Linked DNA regions of Homo sapiens: region 1 is linked to region 2. Evidence: fine-mapped expression QTL. A gene starts in region 2. The other region holds a variant in brackets. All regions are shown on one strand. Distances are from middle to middle. Region 1 overlaps TRIM6-TRIM34 (TRIM6-TRIM34 readthrough). Region 2 holds the start of TRIM6 (tripartite motif containing 6).

Region 1 (8,478 bases), 38 kb before region 2:
CCCTTCTTTTCCAAGTCTGTCTGCATCTCATTGGACTGTGAAAAAAAGCAGCTAGACTTCATTCTGTACAGGTACAATACTACATTCCACAAAGAAGAAAAAACGGCACCAGTAACTAAGAATATCTAAAACATAAGCTGTTCTCCAGCCATATTGTTTCCTTTCTTATGCCGTATTGTCAAACTGGTATCAATATTCACTCAGTCCCTGTCCCAGACACTAAAACATTTTATCAAGCCAGTCCATCCTTAACTTCTGTTAGTCATCTGCATTCCCCCATCATCACCACTGTGGGTTAATTTGTTTTGAGCAAGATGTACCAATATATTTGGCTTTAACTCTTTCATGACACCAGCTGGTGTACAACCAAATAAATGGTTTTGCTCTCTGTATTAGCATAGTTTTGTTGTTCAACAACTAAAATTGCCTTAACTGGGAAGAAAGTAAGGGTTGTGGCCAGAGAGGTATTACTTTAGTCACAGATGGCTCTGGAAGCTCAAACCTCTGTCACAATTCTGGCCTCTCTGTGCCTATTAATTCTCATTTCTTCCCTATATTTTGACTGTATTCTCAGATTTTAGTTGATAGCAACTTGAATCTCTTTATTTGAATTATCTTCACTGATATTATTTTCTGCTAAAAAGGAGAACTTCCCTTCACTGCAATGACAGTACAATTTTGTCACCCACAAGCATTCAGGATTGGGTCAGATGTCCAACTTAAAATAATCACTGTGTGGCTGGTAGGGATGTAAGGATTGGATACGCTGATTTACATATAATTAACTCATTCATTCTTGATAGTGCTGATTTTCTCAGGTCTAAACAAGTACAAGGATGGAAATAGACATGCTAGTCTTTCTTGCAAGAGTAATTCCAGGTGTTATTACCAGAAAAATGGGGAATGGATATTGACGAAACAAAAATAATGAGTACCATGTAGCCCAAACCCTAGCATTATGCAACAGACCCTTATAAGAAACCTGTAGGACAAATATTCTATGATTCCACTTACATGAGGTACTTAGAATAGGCAAAGTCATAGAGACAGAAAGTAGAATAGTGGTTATCAAAGTAGAGCAGTGGTGACCAAAGGGAATGGGGAGCTGTTTTTTAATGGGTACAGTTTCAGTTTGGGATGGTGAAAAAGTCCAGAGAGGGATCCCACTTAATGGTTGCACAGCAATCTGAATGTACTAAATGCCATGGAATTGAATGTGCCCCCTGAATCTAAAATTTTAAGAAACCTGGAAAAAAAATTTTAAATAATAGTAACTGCCATCTTCTTTCCCTCATTTAGCTACCTACCATTCCATCCTTTCAAAAATAAAAATGGCCAAATATAATAAAACTATTACAGAAAGCATTAAAAATCAAAGTATCTCCTTTATAAGGGAAACAACCTAAAATCTCATCTAATTTTTGCATCAGTTTTCAAGTTGAGCGTCTTTCTGTCTAGATCGTTCTTTGGCAGTAAGTGTTGAATGCAGCTCTTACGAAATGAGTATCAGTCCCTCTAGCAAACAAACAATGGATATATGATAACACCATCCATCCCGATCGCCATCATGAGAATCCATATAGAAAGAAAGCTGTTACAGGGACTCTCAGGAGATGGGATTGTGGAGGAGACATACCACAAATACAACAGCACATATCTTTTTTTTTTAGACTGAGTCTCGCTCTGTCGCCCAGGCTGGAGTGCAGTGGCGCCATCTTGGCTCACTGCAAGCTCCGCCTCCTGGGTTCACACCATTCTCCTGCCTCAGCCTCCTGAGTAGCTGGGACTACAGGCAGCCGCCATCACCAGCTAATTTTTTGTATATTATAAAATGCCCGGCTAATTTTTTGTATTTTTAGTAGAGACGGGGTTTCACTGTGTTAGCCAGGATGATCTCGATCTCCTGACCTCGTGATCCACCCACCTCGGCCTCCCAAAGTGCTGGGATTACAGGCGTGAGCCACCGCGCCCCGCCAACAGATTATATCTTAACATATTGGAGAGGAATAGCCAAAGTCCCTACTCAGATAAAAGAATAAGTTCCTAAGTTTTCCATTTGCCATTCTTTGAAGCTAACATCTAGAAGTGAAATGTTAATCCCACAGCATTTATAATTTTTGATCTACCAATATTTTTTTAAATTCCAAGTGACCAAATAGCAACTAAGACTGACTGAAATAGGACAAATGCCTGGACAAATGACATAAACACAGTGTTCTTTTGTGAAGGTGGCGATTCAAAGGGTTGTGAAGAGCTTAAGGAAGAACCATAAAAAAGGGCCTACGGAACCTTTTTGTTTTTGTTTTTACTGAGATGTAGTTCAAATACCATAAGATTTGCCCTTTACAGTGCACAATTTAACAGGCTTTAAAATATTCACGATGTAGTGCAACCGTCATTGCACAGTAAATCCAGATCATTTTCATCACTACAAATAGAAATTGTACACTAATTAGCAATTACTTCCTATTCTTCCCCAGAGCTCTGGCAACCACTAATCTAGTTTCTATATTACGGATTTGCTACTTACAGACTTTCATATAAATGGAATCATACAAAAAAGAACTTGTGTTTGCCTTCTTTCAATTATAATGTTTTCAAGGTGCATCCATGTCATAGCATGTATTATTAATTCATTATTTTTCACAGCTAAACAATATTACATTGTTTGGATATAACACATTTTGCTTATCCAATCATCAGTTTAAGGAGATACGAGTTGTTTTATTTATGAACAATACTGCTGTGAACTTTCATATATAAGTTTATGCACAAATATATGTATTCAGTTCTTCTAGGTATATAGGTAGGAATGGAATGGCTAGGCCACATGAGAACTCTCTTTACATTTCTGAGCAACTGCCAAGCAGTTTTTCCTAAGTAGCTTTACTATTTTACATCTCTACTAGCAATTCAAGAAGGTTTCAATTTCTTCACATCTTCCCAAACACTTGGTATTGTCCATCTTTTTTTATTATAGCCATACTAATGAGTGTAAAATACGTTTAGGAACCTCTGTTCCAGAGTAATCTTAAATTTAAACAAAAAAAGAAGACAAAAGGAAAAAGGAATTTAAAAAAAGCTGGGATATAAGCACCAGAGACAAAGCAAACAATTCAACAAATGAAAATCAGTTACTCTCCTGCTTCGTTCCAAATCTTAAAAAGGAAATATTTGGAAATTCAGCAAAGAAAGGAGAGCACTGTCTGTCTATATATTTGTCCATCTTTCTCCCCAAAAGGCTCAATATTCTATCACTTTATGTTTAAAAAAAAGTAACAGGGGGCTGGGTGCGGTGGGTCAGGCCTGTAATCCCAGCATTTTGGAAGGCCGAGGCAGGCGGACCACGAGGTCAGGAGATTAATACCATACTGGCTAGCACGGTGAAACCCCATGTTTACTAAAAATACAAAAAAAATTAGCCAGACGTGGTGGTGGGTGCCTGTAGTCCCAGCTACTCGGGATGCTGGGCAGGAGAATGGCGTGAACCTGGGAGGCGGAGCTTGCAGTGAGCCGAGATCGCACCACTGCACTCCAGCCTGGGAGACAGAGCGAGACTCCGTCTCAAAAAAAAAAAAAAAAAAATTAACAGGGAACATTTGCATAACAAATAAGCATATTTTAAACTTAAATAGAACACATTTCTTAAATGTGTATGCTCTTAAACCTGAAAATGCATGTGTTTACCTGTGACTAACCAGAGTAAAGAGAAGTCTGATGAATGCTTGACACTAGATCACATATAATAGGGGCCTAGAGACTATAACTAGATATAATGGATCTTTTCTGCAAGGTAAAATGTATTCCCTTACTTCATAAATTAATAAAAATGTCATTCATGTCCATGACATCTAGAATGGACGACAAGGCGGCACTGCAAGGCCAAAGAAACCCCTTAGTGTCACCACCAGGATGAGAACGCAAGGACACAGGAGGGAACTGTGTTCCCAGAATCTCAGATTGAGCGAACCTTCTTACCTGCAGCAGCTCCATTGTTGACCACTGACTCCGACACTCCACATCTGAGATGAGCTCTCTCACCAACTGCTTCTGCTGAACTAGCTCATCCTCAGCCTCTGCAAACTTATCCAGCGTCTTCTTTTCTTCTTCTTCCAATCTTTGCAGCTCTCTCTGCTCCTCATTATTTAGGATGCTTCTAAGCTGATCAAATTCTGTTTGTATCCTTTGTCTCTCAGTTTGTACCTGATACTGCAAGGATGGACAAGAGAGAGTTGTAGTAAGTTTGTCAGGCTAAGGCCTATTGTGCAAGGGATTAGGAGCCAGTAGGGAAATATATATATATATATATGTGTGTGTGTGTGTGTGTGTGTGTGTGTGTGTGTGTGTATTTATATTATCTGTATATATATAT[T/ATT]TGTATTATCTATATATCGATTTTTTTTTTCAGGGAGTTCAAATCAGCAAGGGAGTAGAAGCAATAGAGGTACTTGGAGGGAAGCTATTTTTTCCTACTATTTTCCTTTCAGTACCTACCAAAACAATGACCTCAAACTGTCTTATCTAGGCCAACCCTGAGACAAAATATAAAACATAAGGCTTAGCTTCTAGATAGCTTTCCTGGATATTCATGACTGCCTGCCTTACCACACTCCTAATTTGAATCTTGAGGAAAACCATAGTCCTTTATGTAGTGTCTTCCACCAGAAGTAGTAGAGCCCCGTTGGAAAAGAGCAATGGAACACAGTATTTGCTAGCCTTCCTCATCATAGAGTCTATCTTTGTGCTCAGTTCCAGGTATGTATGTGTAATTGTAACATGTCCACTTTCTAGCCTCCACCCCCAACAGGGACAGGACAGAGAAGAGAACTAATCAAATGGCTTCAGGACTCATGCAATGTCAAGGAATAAAAAGGACGAGGCCTCCTTGGATTAAGGTCCTGTCAAGATTCCTGTCTCAGAAAACCTTCAGAATCTCCTCTTGCCTTCCAGGAAGTTTTCTCTTCTCTGATGTCAGCTTCCAGCTTCTCAGCTTCCTCCTCTTCCTTCTTCAGCCTCTTGAGGACTGCCTGGAGTTTCTCCTATGAGAAGGGAATCACACTACAGTCAAGCTATAAGCTTTCTTAGTATCTGGATAGAGGACAAACAGGGAAAAAATCAAGTTGATCCCAGAAAAAAGCAATTTACAGAAACTGTGAAGCTGGTGATTAGAATCTATGACATGGGGAAAATTTTGAGGAGATGAATGTATTGTTCATTCATTGTGATGAAAATCAATACCCCTCAAAAGGAGTAGCCTGATTCTGTCTTTCCTTAGAGTAAGTATTTACCCTGCAGAAAGTCCTTTCCTCTTATCAATGCTCTTTCCTCATTCAATCCACAATGTTCCTTAGCAATTATCCTGCTTAGAGAAGCAAGAGAGCTAACTTTGGGAAGGAATTTATCACTTATACAATGAAAAAGGAAAAAACAAGACAAAAATTTCTCATTCTTGGCTAAGAGACTGTACTCTAGGATCATCTGTTATGTAAATGAAAGGAATACACAAGAGTGTACCCCAGGCATTGGAAGCTGAGCACAGTGTGAAAGATGTACATGGAGAAGATCACGGGACTCAGAATTATGGTTCCACAGGGGGTAAAGAAGGATGAAAAGGGCTGACTCCTTTTTCAGACTCAGTCCGCCTGCACCCAGGTGATTAAAAAGCTTTATTGCTCACAAAAAAAAAAAAAAAAAAAGAAAGAAAAGGCCGGGCATGGTGGCTCACACCTGTAATCCCAGCACTTTGGGAGGCCGAGGTGGGTGGATCACAAGATTAGGAGTTCAAGACCAGCCTGGCCAAGATGGTGAAATCCCGTCTCTACTAAAAATCCAAAAAAAAAAAAAAAAAATTAGCCAGGCGCGGTGGCAGGCGCCTGTAATCCGAGCTACTTGGGAGGCTGAGGCAGGAAAATTACTTGAACTCAGAGGGCAGAGGTTGCAGTGAGCCGAGAGCACGCCACTGCACTCCAGCCTGGGCGACAGAGTGAGACTCTGTCTCAAAAAAAAAAAAAAAAAAAAAAGGATGAAAAGGTGAGATTTTCCACCAACTACCATCTTCTGCCCCATCTCCCTCCATCTAGGGCCCTACCTGACATTCCTTGAATACTTCCTCCGTGAGGACTGTGTGGTGACCACGGTGCTCCTGAGACCGCTCACAAAGCCAGCAAATGACTTTCCTATCCTCCTTACAGAAGAGTAGGAGTTTCTCTCCATGATGATCACAGAGATCTCTCTTCTTCCCATTGTCTGGGCTCAACTTGACCTCCTTGAGTCTCTCCACTATGTTGGCCAGATGCTGATTAGCCTGTAGATGTTCAAATGAGTAACTGATACCACACACAGGACAGCTGCTTTTTCCTCCCATGCTGGTCACTGCCTCCTTGTTGCTCACAGTGATGCAGGCTCGGCAGAGGCTGTGGCCACAGTCTAGACTCAAGGGTTCTGTCAACAGCTCCAGGCAGATGGGACAGGTCACCTCCTCTTGTACGTTAAGCAAGATTTTTGAAGCCATTGCACTGCTTCCCTGGCTTCTTCTGGTCCTAACTCCTGAGGCTCTCCTCTCTCTTCTGGTTAAAGACCCCTGGATGGCTGAGAAGATTGAAAGGGGATGGTATAAGAATGGTACAAATAAAAAGCATTCTAATTGCACAGACAATAAAGACTGGCCGAGACTGCAATATCAAAGAACAAAGAAGATGAGGAAGAGAAACCAAAAATGGCTGAAAGTGGTCTGGGCGAGCTGTTAATGCCTCAAGGCTTTTGCACTTGTTCATTACTCAGCCTAGAATTACCATCCTGTTGCTATTTGCATGACTTTCGTTTATACTTTTTTCAACTTTCTCCTTACATGTCCCTTCATCAGAAGGGCTGCTAAGACAAACTTAAGTACAGCACAACCACAAACTCATCATTCAGTGTACATTTGCCATCTTTCTTTTATTATCATTATCTATTTTTAAATGTCCACCTCTTCTTTCTAAAACATAATCTACATGTAGATTAGGCACTTTTGTCTTTTTACTGCTATAGCCTCAGTGTTTAGAACACAGAGAAGCACAATGTTTGATAAACATATAAAAAAAACTTCCCTGTCTCTCCACAGATGACTAAAACTTTATCATTGTTTCATTATCTTCCTTCCATTATTTGGAAATTCTTCAATAGCTGAACTTTAGAACCCCAGATGTGGTTTCCAGTGAAGAAGTGCTCGCCTCCTAACACATCTACCCACACAAAATCCTCCCATGCCCTCACAGACTTTCCAGAGATACCGACAGAAACAGCAATGACCACAATATGGAGATTTCATTACCAGTTACAATTTAAAAATCACTTTGGCCTGTTTGTTCCTCCTTCCAAAATTCTTGAGAAATAAGAGTACTCCCTTTCTTCAGATGAATAAATAAAATTAAATGATTTACAAAGATCACCCAATTCGATGGTAGAATTGGAGTGAACATAATACCCTCAGAGTTCTCTTTCAGAGGTCTCCATGCTACTCCACTTATTTAAACAAAGAAAAGCCGAGGTAAAGCCTGAAAGAAGTAGATTGGGATCCAGGGTTATGAGAGTGTAGAAATGGAGGAAACCACATAAGTTGGGAATTTCTGGGGGGGTCTTGTGTTTGTAGATGGTAGGATTTCTTCTTGGCCTGAAGGATGTTACAGAGGTTGATAGGAACCCAAAGGTGTGTATTCGTTGGGGGAGGGGTGTAACCAGCTGAATTACACATAGATCACAGATTCATACCAATGTCAGATCATCGAGGAATAGAAATAGCAAGGAGATGGCTGTTGGCCATGAGAGAGATGTCCCAATACATAAAGGGAGACCACATTTAGGAGCGATGAAGTTCTGTCTGTGTTAAATCCACATCCACTAATTGAATGCCAATTATTCATGTGTTTATTTTGGAAATTCTCACTGAAGACATATTATCTTCCGTGATTAAAATTCAGGAAATGGATTAAAATCCAAAGTTGAGTAATGAACAGATGGTATTAGCCAGAATAAAGTAAACAGTCACCTAAGAAGATAGAAGCTAATTATATAATCATTCATAAAATGTAAAATGGTAGGTGTAAAAAACACCATCATAGAGAGGTATAGGTTTTTAGAAGACCAAATAATGTGCTAAATAGAGAACTATCCAAGATATCTTGCTTGGATAAGTAAGAGTTTAATGAAAGCTGAATAATGAGAAAGGAATACAGAATGAGAAAGAAAACAAATATTTTAGGCAGAAGGAATCATGGAAGTGAATGCCCCGTTCATGGAGGACATAGCATCATAACATGTTCGAAAGTTTTTAAATGTGTGGCTGATATGCAAAAAGCCCTAGGCCTTGGCCTCACATGAGCCTAGAGGAACCTGGATATGTGACACTTCCTAAATGAAGTAAAAGTGACAGTCTCTTTCCAATGAATAGGAGGTGGGGGCAGGGATGGGAGGATGCAGGACAAGTTAACAGAGAGAAGCAGA
Region 2 (8,478 bases):
GCGAGCCGAAAACAGGTTCTTGGCGCTGCCATCTAGTGTTCTGTGGTGCTTCTGCAAGTACTAGCCTGGCTCTTCAGCTTTGCCATGCTTAGCAGCAGCGATGCTCACAGCAAATATCTACAGAAAGCCCATTAGGTATTCAGCAAGAATTTAATTATTTTGTACATAATAACTCAATAATTCCACATAACAACATTATGAATGTCCCTTAAATCTCATCTCATAGTTGTATAAACTGGTATTTAGTAGATCTTTCAAGTGGCGGGGCCGGTGTTGAATGCAGATACGCAGGCTGCAGAGCTGGAGCTCTTATTACTCCCTTATATTCCTCATCTCCATAAAGGGTGCAAAATATAATTAACAAATTAATGAACTCTGTGCATCTAACTGGTAGTACTAATTGGTGTTACAGACGTATTTACCTATCATCTGAGAGTCTGTTTAACCAAATTAATCACACCTGTGGGAACTGCACTATTATTTCCTTTGTTAATATCTCCTACCATACCCACATCATCTCACTTAGCACACTGCACTATAAGGCTCTATTGCCTTTGATAATAGAGGCAATAGAGGCTCTAGAGGCAATAGAGGCTCTATTTATCTTCCAGGTGCCCCAGACCTTAGCACTGCAGCTAACACAGGAAATGATCAATTAACTTTATAATGGATTGAAAATTATAGCTTACTGCTGAGCTTATAGTTGGCCTTGATGTTGGCACTAGAGTATAGAAATAAATGTGCTATCTTATCAAAGTGTTACTGTTAAAAAATAATTGTGTTGGCCGGGCGCGGTGGCCCAAGCCTGTAATCCCAGCACTTTGGGAGGCTGAGGCAGGCGGATCACAAGGTCAGGAGATCGAGACCATCCTGGCTAACACGGTGAAACCCTGTCTCTACTAAAAATACAAAAATTTAGCTGGGTGTAGTGGCGGATGCCTGTAGTCCCAGCTACTCGGGAGGCTGAGGCAGGAGAATGGCGTGAACCCGGAAGGTGGAGCTTGCAGTGAGTCGAGATCGTGCCACTGCACTCCAGCCTGGGCGACAGAGCGAGACTCCGTCTCAAAATAAATAAATAAATAAATAAATAAATAAATAAATATAATAATTGTATTGGTATTATATTTTAATTGAAAGTCCAATTCCAATTCATCCTCCCCAACAAACACATGCACACTTTCATTTCAGGCAAAACTGTATTTAGCGTACCCAATTCTCTTGAAGGAGAACTACTGCCTCATAAATGCAATGTAGTAATAGTCCCAAACTGAAAAGAATCCATGACATCACTAACTGGTAAATGAACAAACTGTGGTGTATCCATACAGTGGCATATTACCAAACAATTAAACTGTTAATATATACAACAAGATAAATCTCAAAAGCATGCAAAGTGAAAGAACCCAAACATCAAATTTAAGTTATTGTATGATGCTATTTATGTGAAATCCTAGAAAAGAGAAAGCTATGGTATTTGAAAGTACATCAGTGGAAGCCAGGGCCCAGGAGTGGGAGAAAAGTTTGAACTGCAAAGGGCATAAGGAAATTTGAAGGGTGAATACATAAAGGGAAATGCCCTTTATGTATCATGATCATGGTGGTGGTTACACAGCTGACTGCAACTGTGAAAATTCACAGAACTGTATGCTTACAATTTGTAACTTACTAGATAGAACTCAATAAACTGACAGAAACAAAAAAATACAAGAAAAATTAAAAGCTTGGTTTCTGATCTTCTAAGCATAATGGAACTGTGTTGTCAAACATGTAGCCAGATATGGCTCTTGAGCATTTGAAGTGTGGCTACTCAGAAATGGGTTGCTTTAGGTACAAAATACACATTGGATTTTGAAGATTTAGTTTAAAAAAGTTAAAGGATCTTATTAATTTTTTTATGTTGATCACATGTCCTAATTGTATTTTGCATGTATTGGGTTAAATGAAATGTATTAAAATTAATTTCACCCGCTTATTTTTAATGAGGCTACTTGAGTATGTAACATTACATATGTGGCTTCATTCTATTTCTAGTTCATTATATGTCTTTTTCCTATCTAATATGCGCTGTAGATATTCATCTAATACTCTCTTTAGACAGAGAAAAATTCTTGAGCAGAAAAAAGATTTGTAAGAGTTGAGGTCTCTTGTCAAAGCTGAGGCTTGGGAAAGAAATTGTGAAGGAGGGGAGCATACAGTTAGCATAGGTGACCCTTGCCCACACACCAGCAAGCCCTGACTGCCCACTGCAGCTAAGTGCAGCCCAAGGGAGATATGGGAGGCTGCCAGTTTCCAACTGAGGCCAAGTCTCCAGAGCAGTGTGGACGGGCTGAGAGAAGGCATTCTGACTGTGAGGAGTGCAGACGAGAAGAGCCTGCAGTCCCAGAGCCCAGTGCATCAAATTAGCAGAAGAAAGAGCCCAAATTCACAACCAGGTGGGACCAATTAAATCAGAACCAGACGCCTGAAAAAGGTCTGCTAACTAGCAACACTGCAAGCACTTGGAGTTCTTTATGCAGAATCTCAGTCTTTCCTGGAATGATTCAGAATCTGCACTTTAATATTAAAGTTCTCTAGGTGATTCTTACGCACATTAAGGCTTCAGAAGCACTGCCTTAGATAAAGGACCTTCTTTCCCAGGTGGATACAATTTAGGGTGCAAAACAGCTAGAAGAGGGAGGGGGACAGAGAATGGCCTGCTATTTAGATACGAAGCATCTTTTAGAATGGAAGCTTGCATCGATATCAAAATGGCTTTCAGAATAAAAATCAGTGACTCAGCAGGGGATACTGGGGCTGGTGTAGGCTGGGGGTTCAGAGTTAGGAATGACAGAGCGGGCCCGTCCACCAGCTGGGAGCCCTAGTGAAAGTGGAATAAAATAGGTGGCAGTTGCATTTATAAGTGAGTTGGGCATGAGTTCTTGCACTTTAGGAATAACATTTTTTTTTATCTTTGTGTAGGGTTATATTTAACCTATTATCTGCAATTGATTATCTAACAGGACTCAATAAATATTTGAATTGGAACATAATCAGTTTCAAAACAAAAAATTTAATTTCCACTTCAAAAGAATTTCTACCCCCTGCATTTCAGAAACCTATAATTTAAAAATTGTTTTGATTGTGCATTTTTTTAAAGCTAGGCATGGAGTTTGCCAGTAATAATGACCATAATTTGTGTCAGGCAGCCTCCTACGTGTTTAAATCTGTCTCACTCAATCCTCACCAAAACTCTAAGATATACATATTACTCCGTCCATCTTATAGATGGAAGAAACTAAAGCTCAAAGAAGTCAAGTTAACAGTCTTCGGGCACACAGCCAGTGTCTGTCAGAGTCAGGATTTGAACACATGCAGTCTGGCTGCGGCATCTATGCTCCTAACCACACATTTCTGTCTCTATTGACTGACTGATTAAAATGTCTCTAACCTCAGTGGGGTCATTTGCAGTGAGAAAGAAAAAGAAATAAAGATATAATGAGTTCCGAAAGGGAAAGGACCTTATCTCTTTCACTGCCCTGTCACCTCTGCCAGAAGTGACAATAAGAGCCAGTCAACAGAACGGTAGACATACCTCTCTGACCCGCACATCTGGGGAATGAGAAGCCAAGAAGTTCCAGATGTAAGCAATATCAGGTGGTCAAAGCTCTTCAGAGCAATCCAAGGCACCTTAAACTAATCTTAAGGAACAGAGCGCGCTCACTCGGCTTTTATCTAAACTCAACCACGCACGACTCTGCTCCGTTCCGTTCCGAGAAAGGCAGGGGATCCCTCCTCCGCCAGCCTTTGGCCGTTGAACGGACGGACCCACAGGTCAGGAGTTTGCGGAAGGCTCATCTCCCAACTCCTTCTGGGAGGAGTCGGGCCGCCTGGGGTGGGGGATAAACGGTGCTCACTTCCTGGAGCGGCCAGGCTGGAGATGGGGGAGGGGAAGGGGGAAGGGGGAAGGGGGAAGGGGGAAGGGGGGAAGGGGAGAACGGGGGAAGGGGGGAAGGGATGCTGACTCTGAATCCACGCCTGACAAAATGGTTTGCAGTGATTCCCTAAAGCAGTTTCCAGAGCTGCCTCCTCTACATACTTCAGCTTGTAGAATAGAGGTTTAACTCTCTTTACACGGCCTATTCCCAGCTGCAAAGGTGCCTCTTCTGTGCTCCCTTCCCAAACTTGAGTTCACTTGAAAATGCAGAAGTCTCCCTCATTCTTCTTTCACCCGTGAACCACCCCCAACCCGACCTGCAGAGCGGGTCAAACTCTCCAGACAAGTGGGGACAGCGGTAGCTGGCCAGAAAATAAACTTGCTCACTAACCTGGAATCTGTGGCCTGGATCAGAGCCAAGGACTTGAAGCAGCCGCGTCCTCCACCCAGGCCGAAAGACTCAGGGGGGAAGGGGCGGGGCCTGGGGAGGAGGAGGGTCAAATTGTCCAGCCCCGCAGGAGATCCAGCCGATTCCATGGGTGTGGTCACCAGTGACCCCTCAGGTGGTAAGGGAGATGGAGATGGTTTCTGAGGCCAGGCGCGGTGGTTCACCCCTGTAATCCCAGCACTTTGGGAGGCCGAGGCGGGCGGATAACGAGGTCAGGAGATTGAGACCATCCCGGCCAACATGATGAAACCCTGTCTCTACTAAAAATACAGAAATTAGCTGGGCGCGCCTGTGGTCCTAGCTACTCGGGAGGCTGAGGCAGGAGAATCGCTTGAACCCGGGAGGTGGAGGTTGCACTCCAGCCTGGAGACAGAGCGAGACTCTCTCTCAAAAAAAAAAAAAAAGAATTTTTGAAGGTAGCAACGCAAAGCTGTTCATCTTACCTGATGAACGGCAAATCCGGAGGCCTTTGAGAACACCAGGCCAGAGATGACCCTTGTAAATTGTCTGCAGTGTACTGTAGCTTTCTAATATCATATCAGAGTTTAATTACACTGATAATACACCTGTACTCCATATAGACGTATTAATTAAAATGTCTAAATAAACATATAAAGTTATACGAGTAAAAGCCCCTTTGCATAATGGCATGTTTTGCCAAACGATCATTAAAATTCATCAGTTTAAAATTACACGTATGTATGTATAAAGCTGTGTGTGTGTATCTGTAATTTTGACCTATATAACTAGAAGACAATCTTTGTTTTTATTTAGGTCTGATGAATACATGTAAAGCTTATTGAGCCTCAGAACTCTAACTACAGGGTTTCAATAGCACAGAAACTCTGAGAAGAAAAAGAATGTCAAAGTTCCTCCCTAAGGAGACTGATTAGGTGAGTATCACCTTGCCTTAGAAGGTGGCTTGGGGAGGGAGGTATAGAGAGAGAAGGGACTGGGGTGTCCATACAAAAGTCTGGACGGAGGATTGGGCAGTAGGGAGAGAGCTGGGTTAAGTATCAAGAGATTTCTCTGGACAGTCCCCAGGCAAATGAAAGGTCATTGGAATCTCGTAAGTGCAGACATGTGTCACTATTTCAGTGACTACCTCATGTCTGCAGGCTTAAGAAGCCACGCAAAGGTTATTTCAGATCACCCTTTGTGTAGCTTTCTTCACAACGGTTTTAGGTATGGCTGCCTCCATATTGCCCCTGGATGACGCTTCAGGTCAAAGCCTGCTTATGCTCTGAAATTCTCCTGACCCCACCCAAACTGCCCAGTATGGACACCACCCTGCCACTGGCCCAGCCAACATTTAAGTCCCTTGGAATACAAAATGGTATGATTGACACCCAGAGGGTTAGAAATATTGGAAAAGGGATGGAGAAGCCCAACCCAGAGTCCCTTCTCAGGCCATTTTCTAAGAGCTGATATAAATGGAAGTAACTTACAGGCTCCATAGTCTTGTCAGCATAGGGCTTCATTTCTGGGGCTAGTAGGCTCAGTTAAAAAAAAAGGATGTTGGCTGGGCATGTTGGCTCGCTTGTAATCCCAGCATTTTGGGAGGCCGAGGTGGAAGGATAGCTTGAATCCACAATTTTGAGGCCAACCTGGGCAACATAGTAAGACCCTGTCTAAAAAAAATAAGTAAATTGCCAGGCATAGCGGTACGTGCCTGTAGTCCCAATTACTTGGGAGGCTGAGAGGTGGGAGGATCACTTGAGCCCGGAAGGTTGAGGCTGCAGTGAGCCATGATCCTGCTACTGCTCTCTAGCCTGGGCAACACAGTGATAATCAGTCTCAAAACAAAAAAGAAAACAAAAAACAGAATGAAAGACTGTTTCTCAGTGTGCAGAATTTTTCCTTTTTGTTTGCTAACCAAGGCAGTTTTTATTTTCTCTATAATTTCTCATCTTGAACAGGGAGATTGGGCATTCTGACGGTTGAGAAGAAATGAAGGTACTTGGCAATAATTCAAGGGGTCTCGAAAAGTTAGATATAAATTTACCACATAATCCATCAAATCCACTCGTAGGAATCTACTCAAAAGAAATGAAAACATATCCGTGCAAAGATTTGTACACAAATGTCCATAGCAGTTTTACTCATATTAAAAAATGGAATCAACCCAACTGTTCATCAAGTATTAAATGTATTGAAAAACAAGTGGTATACCCAATACAGTGGAATACTGTTAGTGTTAAAAGGGAACCAAGTATGTGGGATCCAGAGGTTTGGTGGGGTAATATGATGCATCCAGTAGGACAGGTTTGAAGGTAAAGAGGGCACAGATTTGCTGACAGCCCCAAGTTCCTGAATACTCAGAGTACTTGCAGTTCTAGACTCAGGACCCACTGCTGCAGTTCTAGACTCAGGGTGGTATCAACAGAGCCAGCCTGTTATTATTACAATACTCAATATTAAATACTCAGTATATACCAGGAATATTGTTTAGTGCACAGGTTGAGGTGTCAAGATTTCTTAATAGCAATAAGTGGATATTAACATTTGATAGGAAAGAGGTTTCAGGAAAAGCAAACAGGACCATGACAAGGGTCACAGAATATTCTCATAGCCAAATAGTGATAAAAAAAATACAAACTCAGGAGATAGATTTTCTGTGAGCAAATCTCTAATATGCTCGAATATATTTTCTTTGAGGAAATCTCTAATATATTCACAGGAGAGAGACTTCCTGTGAAAAAAATCTCTAGTATATTTTTTCAGTACAACTTGTTTGAAAGCAGTGTTAGATGATTCCTGTTGTCAGAAATGTTTCTGCCCCTCTCATGGAAAACCCTTCTTAACTCATTACTACCAGCTGGGAGCTGATGGGAACAAAAGAAAAGAAAAAAGTAGATATTGCAAGGCTAAGATTAAGAATCAGGGTAGTTTATGCTTGAGAATTCAGGATAGGCCTAACTGGATTTTCTGAAAGATAATTGTTAACATCTGATTACAGGAAGAACTTCAGTAAAACCAAATGAAAACAAATTTCAGGGAGAAACACCTCTTGTTCCAGAGGCTTAGGGATGTAGGAGAAACAAGCCACCAATTTTGTTTTCAGATGCTTCTGATCATCAAACATGGACCTAATTAATGCATTTTTTTGGTCCTTTCCTCCCTCTCTTTTTTCCATCCTTCTTGTTTTCCCTACTTTCCTCTCATTTTTTCTTCTTTTTTCTTTTTCTTTTTTCTTTTTTTTTTTTTTTTGAGACAATCTCACTCTGTTGCCCAGGCTGGCATGTAGTAGCACAATCTCAGCTCACTTCAGCCACAAACTCTCGGGCTCAAGTGATCTTCCCACTTCAGCCTCTCAAGTAGCTGAGACTAAGGGCATACACCACCGTGCCGGGTAAATTTTTGTGTATTTTGTAGAGACAGGATTTCATTATGTTGCCCAGGCTGATCTCAAACTCCTGGACTCAAGCGATCCACCCACTTCAGTCTCCCAAAGTGCTGGGATTACAGGTGTGAGCCACCACGCCTGGCCCCATCTTTCCTTTGATATTTTATATTTTCTTCCTTCCTTCTTTTTAAAAATTTGTTTTGTTCTTTCTTTTCAGCAGACACATATTAAACTATATATGTCATATAGCACGGTATTTAAGATGGTATTTAAGATGATGGACTCTGGAACCAGTTTTGCCAAGATTCAGATCCTAGCTCATTTACTTACCATCTGTATGATTTGGGGCAAGTTACTTAACCTCTCTTGGGCCTCAGTTTCCCTATCTGTAAAATACCTACTGCATAGAGTTATTGTGAAGACTAAATATGCAAGTATATGTGGAGTACTTAGGACAGTCCCTGAAACACAATAGCTCGTCAGTGAGTGATAGGTAGCATTATTAACTATAATGAAGTACCAAGCATTTGGCAGGGCTCTGGAGTAATACCGATGAATAAAACATGAATTTTGCTGTGCATATATTCACATTCTAGTCAATTTGAAGAAAATCAAGCTAGTCACTTAAATATAGCTTTTTGTTTGTTTCTTTCCTATTATCTCATTTTCTCTAAATCCCCTTCCTAGATAATCCCATCCAGTTTCCTAGCTGACAAAGTCCTAACATTAACTATAGATCAGACCTCTTTTGGGCTCCAGAGTCCATGTGAG

The links. PIP is the estimated chance that this variant, and not a neighbour inherited with it, causes the effect.
Region 1: its variant is the best candidate, but not a certain one, in a credible set for the expression of TRIM6 in fibroblasts (GENCORD, PIP 0.89).

Annotation. Positions count from the first base shown.
Region 1 is chr11:5,630,362-5,638,839 of GRCh38, reverse strand. TRIM6-TRIM34 (TRIM6-TRIM34 readthrough) reads right to left here. Exons shown (of 14, transcript NM_001003819.4): 8 at 6,086-6,585; 9 at 4,941-5,036; 10 at 3,979-4,209. It overlaps TRIM34 (tripartite motif containing 34), which reads right to left. Exons shown (of 8, transcript NM_021616.6): 2 at 6,086-6,585; 3 at 4,941-5,036; 4 at 3,979-4,209. The coding sequence starts at 6,508. It also overlaps a transcript of TRIM5 not described here. Among named protein-coding and RNA genes, the nearest start is that of TRIM34, 9.6 kb to the right of the region's middle. RefSeq lists an enhancer at 6,424-6,663. The variant T/ATT (reference allele first, on the strand shown) is at 4,373.
Region 2 is chr11:5,592,008-5,600,485 of GRCh38, reverse strand. It overlaps TRIM6 (tripartite motif containing 6), which reads right to left and starts at 3,849. Exons shown (of 8, transcript NM_001003818.3): 1 at 3,572-3,849. The coding sequence starts at 3,588. It overlaps TRIM6-TRIM34 (TRIM6-TRIM34 readthrough), which reads right to left and starts at 3,849. Exons shown (of 14, transcript NM_001003819.4): 1 at 3,572-3,849. The coding sequence starts at 3,588. It also overlaps a transcript of TRIM5 not described here. RefSeq lists enhancers at 1-127, 3,865-3,914, 3,161-4,078, 4,233-4,527.